2 linked regions of the Homo sapiens genome follow. The protein of the gene in region 1 interacts with the protein of each later gene in a biochemical or structural test. Each region holds a gene or a part of one and is shown in the gene's direction. Other genes may lie near its edges.

Region 1 (3,652 bases):
TACAAGTAGCCTCTTTGACAAACTTAAGAAGGAACCTGATGCTTTAACTTTGCTGGCCCCAGCCGCTGGAGACACAATCATATCTTTAGATTTTGGCAGCAACGGTGAGTAGTTATTTTTGTTAATCCCCTAAATTGTGTCTGTTGCTACAAGCCCCATTTCAACTAAACATTACTTTACGGTTTTTGTTGGTAATCATTTGGACATTACAAGCTAATATATGTTTATAGTTTTCTTAAATGTATTTGCTTAAATATTTTTGCCCCCGTAATTTCTTACCATTCTTGCTTTTTTATACTGTTGGAAATTGTGCTTCAAAGTGTCCTTAAGGTATTTCTTCTTCCCACATAAATTTTTCCTGGCTACTCTATTTCTGTATCCTGCTGTCAGATTTTCTCCACAGTTTAGCAGAGTTATATGGAAGTAGGCATTGTTGCATTAAAGGATAAAAAAGTAGTCATACTATAACATCAAGCATTGAAGATGAAAACTGCAATTTTAAAGTAGAGAACATTTTAATGTATAAAAAGGTTGGTATTGCCTTTTGTCTTTTATGCCATAGAGATTAAGACGCGGTATCAATAGTGGATTGTAAAGGTAACTCAGACTTATGGTTATACTATACTATTGTATGTAAACTTTCTGATGAAGGAAAATTTGGTGACATTTTGTTGTTTGATGAATTAGACAAACCTTTTGTGAAAAAGAACATAAATTTTTTATATGTGAAAATCCTTGTGGCCGGGCGCAGTGGCTCACGCCTGTAATCCCAGCACTTTGGGAGGCCGAGGCGGGTGGATCACTTGAGGTTAGGAGTTCGAGACCAGCCTGGCCACCATGGTGAAACCCCGTCTCTACCAAAAATACAAAAGTTAGCTGGGCGTGGTGGTGTGCGCCTGTAATCCCAGCTACTTGGGAGGCTGAGGCAGGGGAATTGCTTGAACCTGGGAGGCAGAGGTTGCAGTGAGCCAAGATTGCGCCATTGCACTCCAGCCTGGGCAACAGAGCAAGACTCTGTCTTGGGTAAAAAAAAAAAAAAATCCTTCTATACTTTAGATTGACTCATATTTTTTCCCCACAGACACAGAAACTGATGACCAGCAACTTGAGGAAGTACCATTATATAATGATGTAATGCTCCCCTCACCCAACGAAAAATTACAGAATATAAATTTGGCAATGTCTCCATTACCCACCGCTGAAACGCCAAAGCCACTTCGAAGTAGTGCTGACCCTGCACTCAATCAAGAAGTTGCATTAAAATTAGAACCAAATCCAGAGTCACTGGAACTTTCTTTTACCATGCCCCAGATTCAGGATCAGACACCTAGTCCTTCCGATGGAAGCACTAGACAAAGTTCACCTGAGGTAGGTGTCATGATATAATCAGAAAGGGACAACTTTCAGATTTTAACATTCAAGAATGTATTTATAAGTTTGATTCAAACACTTATTTGAACCACAAATTACATTTGTGTGTGTGTTTGAATTTTAGCACTTTAAAATTATTGCAAGAGCTACTGCCTAACCTAGACCTGAGCACATGTTTTAGGCTCAAAGATAGTCAGGAACATGGGAAGAAACTAGCTTAATATAAACCAAAAGGTGAAACGTACATTGTTTCTCTATTATTTATATCAGTAGGACAAAAACATCTTGAATTTGGACATTTAAAGAGAATAGTACTAAGTGTGCTCAAGGTAGCTACAGCCTATACCTGTTACCCCTTTTAGTTTGTTTTATTGTGTTTTGTTTTGTTTTGAGAAAGAGTCTCACTATCACCCAGGCTGGAGTGCAGTGGTGCAATCACAGCCTCAACCTCCCAGGCTCAAATGATTCTCCCACCTCAGCCTCCCAAGTAGCTGGGACTACAGGCCTGCATCACCATGCCTGGCTAATTTTTTAACCTTTTTTTGTGTGTGTGTGTGGAGTTGGGGTTCTCACTATGTTGCTCAGGCTGGTTTTAAACTCCTGGGCTCAAGCGATCCTCCTGCCTTGGCCTCCCAAAGTACTAGGATTACAGGCGTGAGCTACCATGCCTGGCCCATTACCCCTTTGAGTTGGAGAACTGTCTGGTAGCAATAGACTTACGAGGGTTTAAATGGGAAAGGACCTTATAAATTCTTTGCCCAATTTAGTCTAATTTCCATCACTATTTTGAAATTTTGGGTAAGTATAATATGAAAATAACAAGTGTTACATAAAATAAATACTTAGTAACTGGTCTTTTTTATTCTGGATCTGTCTTGATATTAATTGTCCTATGAACACAAAAATAATCTTTAAAGGCTAGGCTGGCCAAGACTTAGAGATATCACACAGGGCTCTATTTCTAAATCTAGAATGATTCCATTTTAGGGCTTCCTACATCTAAAAATATGCTCAGGAGTAGGGCAACTTAGATCTGAACATTATAACTTGATAAATGAGGCATAAATAAGCTTTAATAAGTGGTAAATAATTCTACATTAGGTATTTGTTGAATAAAACTGACAAGCTAAGAGTAGGGGATTTGACATCTCACAGCCTTGTGTTGAATGAATATATATCCTATGCTCTGGTTGCTTAATTTACCCAGAAAAAAAAATGTTTGATTCATCTTGGTTTTTATCTAACAAAAGTAAATCTAACAAAAACGTTAGAATGAGGAAAGCAAAATTTCTTGTTTAGAATACACAGCTATAGTTTTTTGTTAAACTTCTTGCCCAGAACTCTTAAAATAGTAATAATGTACATTCGTTCAGGTATATGCAGGTAAAATAACTTAGGTTTCTACTCCCACCCCCGACAGTAACAGTGAGATTTTTAGGTAGCTCAGTCACCACAGGAGTGTGCCTTCTCAGTTCAAAGGTAAATTCCAGTGAATGTAGCATCTAGTTAATTGGTCAATTAGGTACCATTGTGGGATGTGAATTACCAAATAGGTTTTATTCTTTAGAATAAGGTGTTTCTTTTCATCTCAATTTTGTAAATGATGTTATATTACATAGTCAGAAATATATATATTGGCAAAATTAGTTACCAGTATAAGCTTCAAAATGTCACTATTTTCACAAATTTTTTTTTTTTTTTTTTTTTTTGACATGGAGTCTCACTCTGTCGCCAGGCTGGAGTGCAGTGGCATGATCTTGGCTCACTGCAACCTCTGCCTCCCAGGTTCAAGTGATTCTCCTGCCTCAGCCTCCTGAGTAGCTGGGATTACAGGCGTTTGCCACCATGCCTAGCTAATTTTTGTATTTTTAGTAGAGACGAGGTTTCACCATGTTGGCCAGGATGGTCTCGATCTCTTGACCTCATTATCCCTCCACCTTGGCTTCCCAAAGTGCTGGGATTACAGGCGTGAGCCACTGAGCCCGGCCTAGTTAAATAAAATTTGATAAACACGATGGACTTGGTTGTGTGTTTTCTGGTTTTTCTGAGATCTAGTTTGAAAATTCTGACAACTAGCAAAGTATATGGAAGCTTCTTCAGGAAATAGTAAACATATTTCTTTTTACAGCCTAATAGTCCCAGTGAATATTGTTTTTATGTGGATAGTGATATGGTCAATGAATTCAAGTTGGAATTGGTAGAAAAACTTTTTGCTGAAGACACAGAAGCAAAGAACCCATTTTCTACTCAGGTATATGAACTTATTTGTTTTATATTAAAT
Region 2 (3,652 bases), on another chromosome or scaffold:
CTATGGTCTAAGGAAGTAAGTGTGGGCTTGAGTGAAAAGTTCCAGCTCTGTTATTCTCTAAACAGTCATGGGAAACTTGGTTCCTTCTTTTCTTACATAAATTGGGAACAAATCATCGTCTAATGGGTGAAGGAAAACTAAGTGGAATAACTGGACTTACCACCTGGGACATTGTGAGTTAGTTAAGTTTGAGTCATGGTCCCTTTGAGATACTGAAAGCTATGGAACTCCACCCCTGCTTCCTAGATCTTTAAGGTCTCATGGATATCATGGACCTTGGAATAATCTTTTGTAAATAACCCTTCTGGTGAAGGCATAGTAAACAAAGTTCCCCTGCTCAAAGGCTAGAGATTTGGGTATTCTTTGGGTTTTGAGTAGCGAGCATAATTCTGTGGGATTCTGGACAGGTTTCTTAACAGGTGAGTAGTGTCACTCAAACACTCAAACCCACATGCTCATTTTCTGGGTTACTTTGTATATGTATATGCATGTACTTTAAAATACAACATAAAATTTACCATTTTAACCATTGGCATAAAGTACATTCACATTGTTTTTCCGTTATTGCCACTAGCCAGCTACAGAAATTTTTTATCATCTCAAACTGAAACCGTACACATTAAACAGTAACTCCCCATTCTCCCTTCCCCTAGTGCCTAGTAACCACCATTCTATTTTCTGTATCTGTGAGTTTGAGTGCTCTAAGTACCTCATGTAAGTGGAATCATACAGTGTTTATTCTTTCTCGTCTGGTTTATTTCACTTAGCCTAGTATCTTTAAAATTCGTTCATGTTGTAGCATGCATCAGAACTCCTTTGAAAGGCTGAATGATATTCCACTGTATGTATATACCATATTTTATTTATCCATCAATAGACATTTGGGTTGTTTCCACCTTTTGGCTATTGTGAATAATGCTGCTATGAACATTGGTGTACAAATATTTGTTCAAGTCCCCGGTATATACCCAGAGTGGAATTGCTGGATCATGTTCTAATTTTATGCCTAATTTTTTTGAGGGGACACCATACTGTTCTGCACAGCTGCTATGCCATCTTACATTCCCACCAACAATGCAGCATGTTCCAGTTTCCCCACAGCCTTGCCAACAGTTGTTATTTTCCGTTTTTTGTTTTTTGTTTTTTTTTTGATAATACCCACCCTAATGGGTGTGAAGTGATATTTCATTGTGGTTTTGATTTGCATTTTTCTAATGATTGGTAATGTTGAGCATCTTTTCATATGCTTATTGGCCATCTGTGTATTTTTTTTTTTTTTTTGGACACATGTCTATTCAAGTCTTTTGCTCATGTTTTAATTGGGTTGTTGAGTTTTCTGGTTGTTCAATTTTAGGAGTTCTTCATATGTTCTGGATATTAATCTCTTATCAGACACATGTTTTGCAAATATTTTCTCTTGTTCTGTGGTTTTATCTTTTAACTTTGGTGTCTTTAAAAAAAAAACTTTTAACTTATTTAATTTTTTAAAATTGAGACAGAGTCTGTCTTTGTCACCCAGGCTAGAGTGCAATGATGCCATCTCGGCTCACTGCAACCTCTGCCTCCTGAGCTCAAAGCAGTCCTTCCACCTCAGCCTCCCAAGTAGCTGGGACTACAGGCATGCACCATCATGCCTAGCTAATTTTTTGAATTTGTTTTTTTTTGGAGAGACAGGGTTTTACCATGTTGCCCAGGCTACTCTTGAACTACTGGGCTTAAGCAATCCTCCCACCTTGGCTTCTCAAAGTGCTGGGATTACAGGCATGAAGCCACCTCACCCAGACCAACTTTCTTTTCTTTTTTAATTTTTTTTAGAGGGTCTCACTATGTTGCCCCAGCTGGCCTTGAACTCCTGTGCTGAGGTGATCCTACTGCCTCAGCCTCCTGAGTAGCTGGGACTGCAGGTGCATACCACTGTGCCCAGCTTACTCCAATGTCTTGATGCACAACAGTTTTTCATTTTGATTAAGTCCAGTTTACCTGGGCCAGGTGCAGTGGCTCATGCCTGTAATTCCAGCACTTTGGGAGGCTGAGGCAGGAGGATCACTTGAGCCCAGAAGTTTGAGACCAGCCCTGCAACATGGGAAGACCCTGTCTCTACAAAAAAAAAAAATGTTTTTTAATTAGCAGAGTGCGGTGGCACCCTGCTACTCAGGAGTCCCCAGCTACTCAGGAGGCTGAAGTAGAAGGATTGCTTGAGACTGGGAGGTCAAGGCTGCAGTAAGCCATGATCATGCCACTGCACTCCAGCCTAGGCAACAAAGTGAGACCCTATTTAAAGAAAAAAAATGAAGCCGGGCACAGTGGCTCACACCTGTAATCCCAACACTTTGGGAGGCCGAGGCAGGCAGATCACCTGAGGTCAGGAGCATGAGACCAGCCTGGCCAACATGATGAAACCCCATCTCTACTAAAAATAGAAAAATTTTCCGGGCGTGGTGGTAGGCGTCTGTAATCCAAGCGTCTTGGGAGGCTGAGGCTGGAGAATCACTTGAACCTGGGAGGCGGAGGTTGCAGTGAGCCGAGATTGTGCCATTGCACTCCAGCCTGGGCGTCAGAGCGAGACTCTGTCTCAAAAAAAAAAACAAAAACAACAACAACAACAACAACAACAAAAAAACATAAAAAAAATTAAAAACAGTTTAATTTTTCTTTTGTTTCCTGTGCTTTTGGTGTTCTAGGTCATTCTTAACTGTTCAGCCCTACCTTGCCTTCTCCACTTGTTGAGCAGTCCCAAGGAGTCAATCCGGAAGGAAGCTTGCTGGACTATTTCAAATATTACTGCTGGCAACAGGGCTCAAATACAGGTAAAACAGGCAGGGAAGTCAAGGGGCATGGGAAGTCATAGGAACTTGGGAGGTTGTTGGAATATTTGCTTTCAGAAGAAAGAATTTGTTTCCCTTTAAAAATAGGAGTCAATTGGCCAGGCACGGTGGCTCACGCCTGTAGTCCCAGCACTTTGGGAGGCCGAGGTGGGCAGATCATGAGGTCAGGAGTTTGAGACCATCCTGGCCAACATGGTGAAACCCCATCTGTACTAAAAATACAAAAATTAGATGGGTGTGGTGGCGGACGCCTGTAATCTCAGCTATTCGGGAGGCTGAGGCAGGAGAATTGCTTGAACCCGAGAGGCAAAGGTTGCAGTGAGCTGAGATCACGCCACTGCACTCCAGCCTGGGCAACAGAGCGAGACTCCGTCTCAAAAAAAAAAAAAAAAAAAGAGGGGCTGGGCATGGTGGCTCATGCTTGTAATCCCAGCACTTTGGGAGGCTGAGGTGGGCGGATCACAAGGTCAGGAGATCAAGACCATCCTGGCTAACGTGGTGAAACCATGTCTCTTCTAAAAATACAAAAAAAAAGAAAAATTAGCCGGGCGTGGTGGCAGGCGCCTGTAGTCACAGCTAGTCGGGAGGCTGAGGCAGGAGAATGGCGTGAACCTGGTAGGTGGAGCTTGCAGTGAGCCGAGATCGCGCCACTGCACTCCAGCCTGGGTGACAGAGCAAGACTGTCTCAGAAAATAAATAAATAAATAAATAAATTGGAGTCAGTGTGTACTATTGGTCAAAGAAGCTGTGTAACCAAAACTGGGTTCTTCTGTAGTAGCCTGTCACCTATATAGGAAGAACAAAAGAAAACTCCCAGAATGGGGAAG

What was found. The genes of interacting proteins can lie anywhere in the genome.
Region 2: the proteins of HIF1A (region 1) and KPNA6 form a complex in vitro, tested with the Homo sapiens proteins (2 studies listed by BioGRID).

The regions. Positions count from the first base shown.
Region 1 is NC_000014.9:61,737,006-61,740,657, forward strand, and holds part of HIF1A (hypoxia-inducible factor 1-alpha), read left to right. Parts: coding exon 1-104; intron 105-1,081; coding exon 1,082-1,368; intron 1,369-3,499; coding exon 3,500-3,622; intron 3,623-3,652.
Region 2 is NC_000001.11:32,163,424-32,167,075, forward strand, and holds part of KPNA6 (importin subunit alpha-7), read left to right. Parts: intron 1-2,681; coding exon 2,682-2,807; intron 2,808-3,652. UniProt on the Homo sapiens protein: Functions in nuclear protein import as an adapter protein for nuclear receptor KPNB1. Binds specifically and directly to substrates containing either a simple or bipartite NLS motif.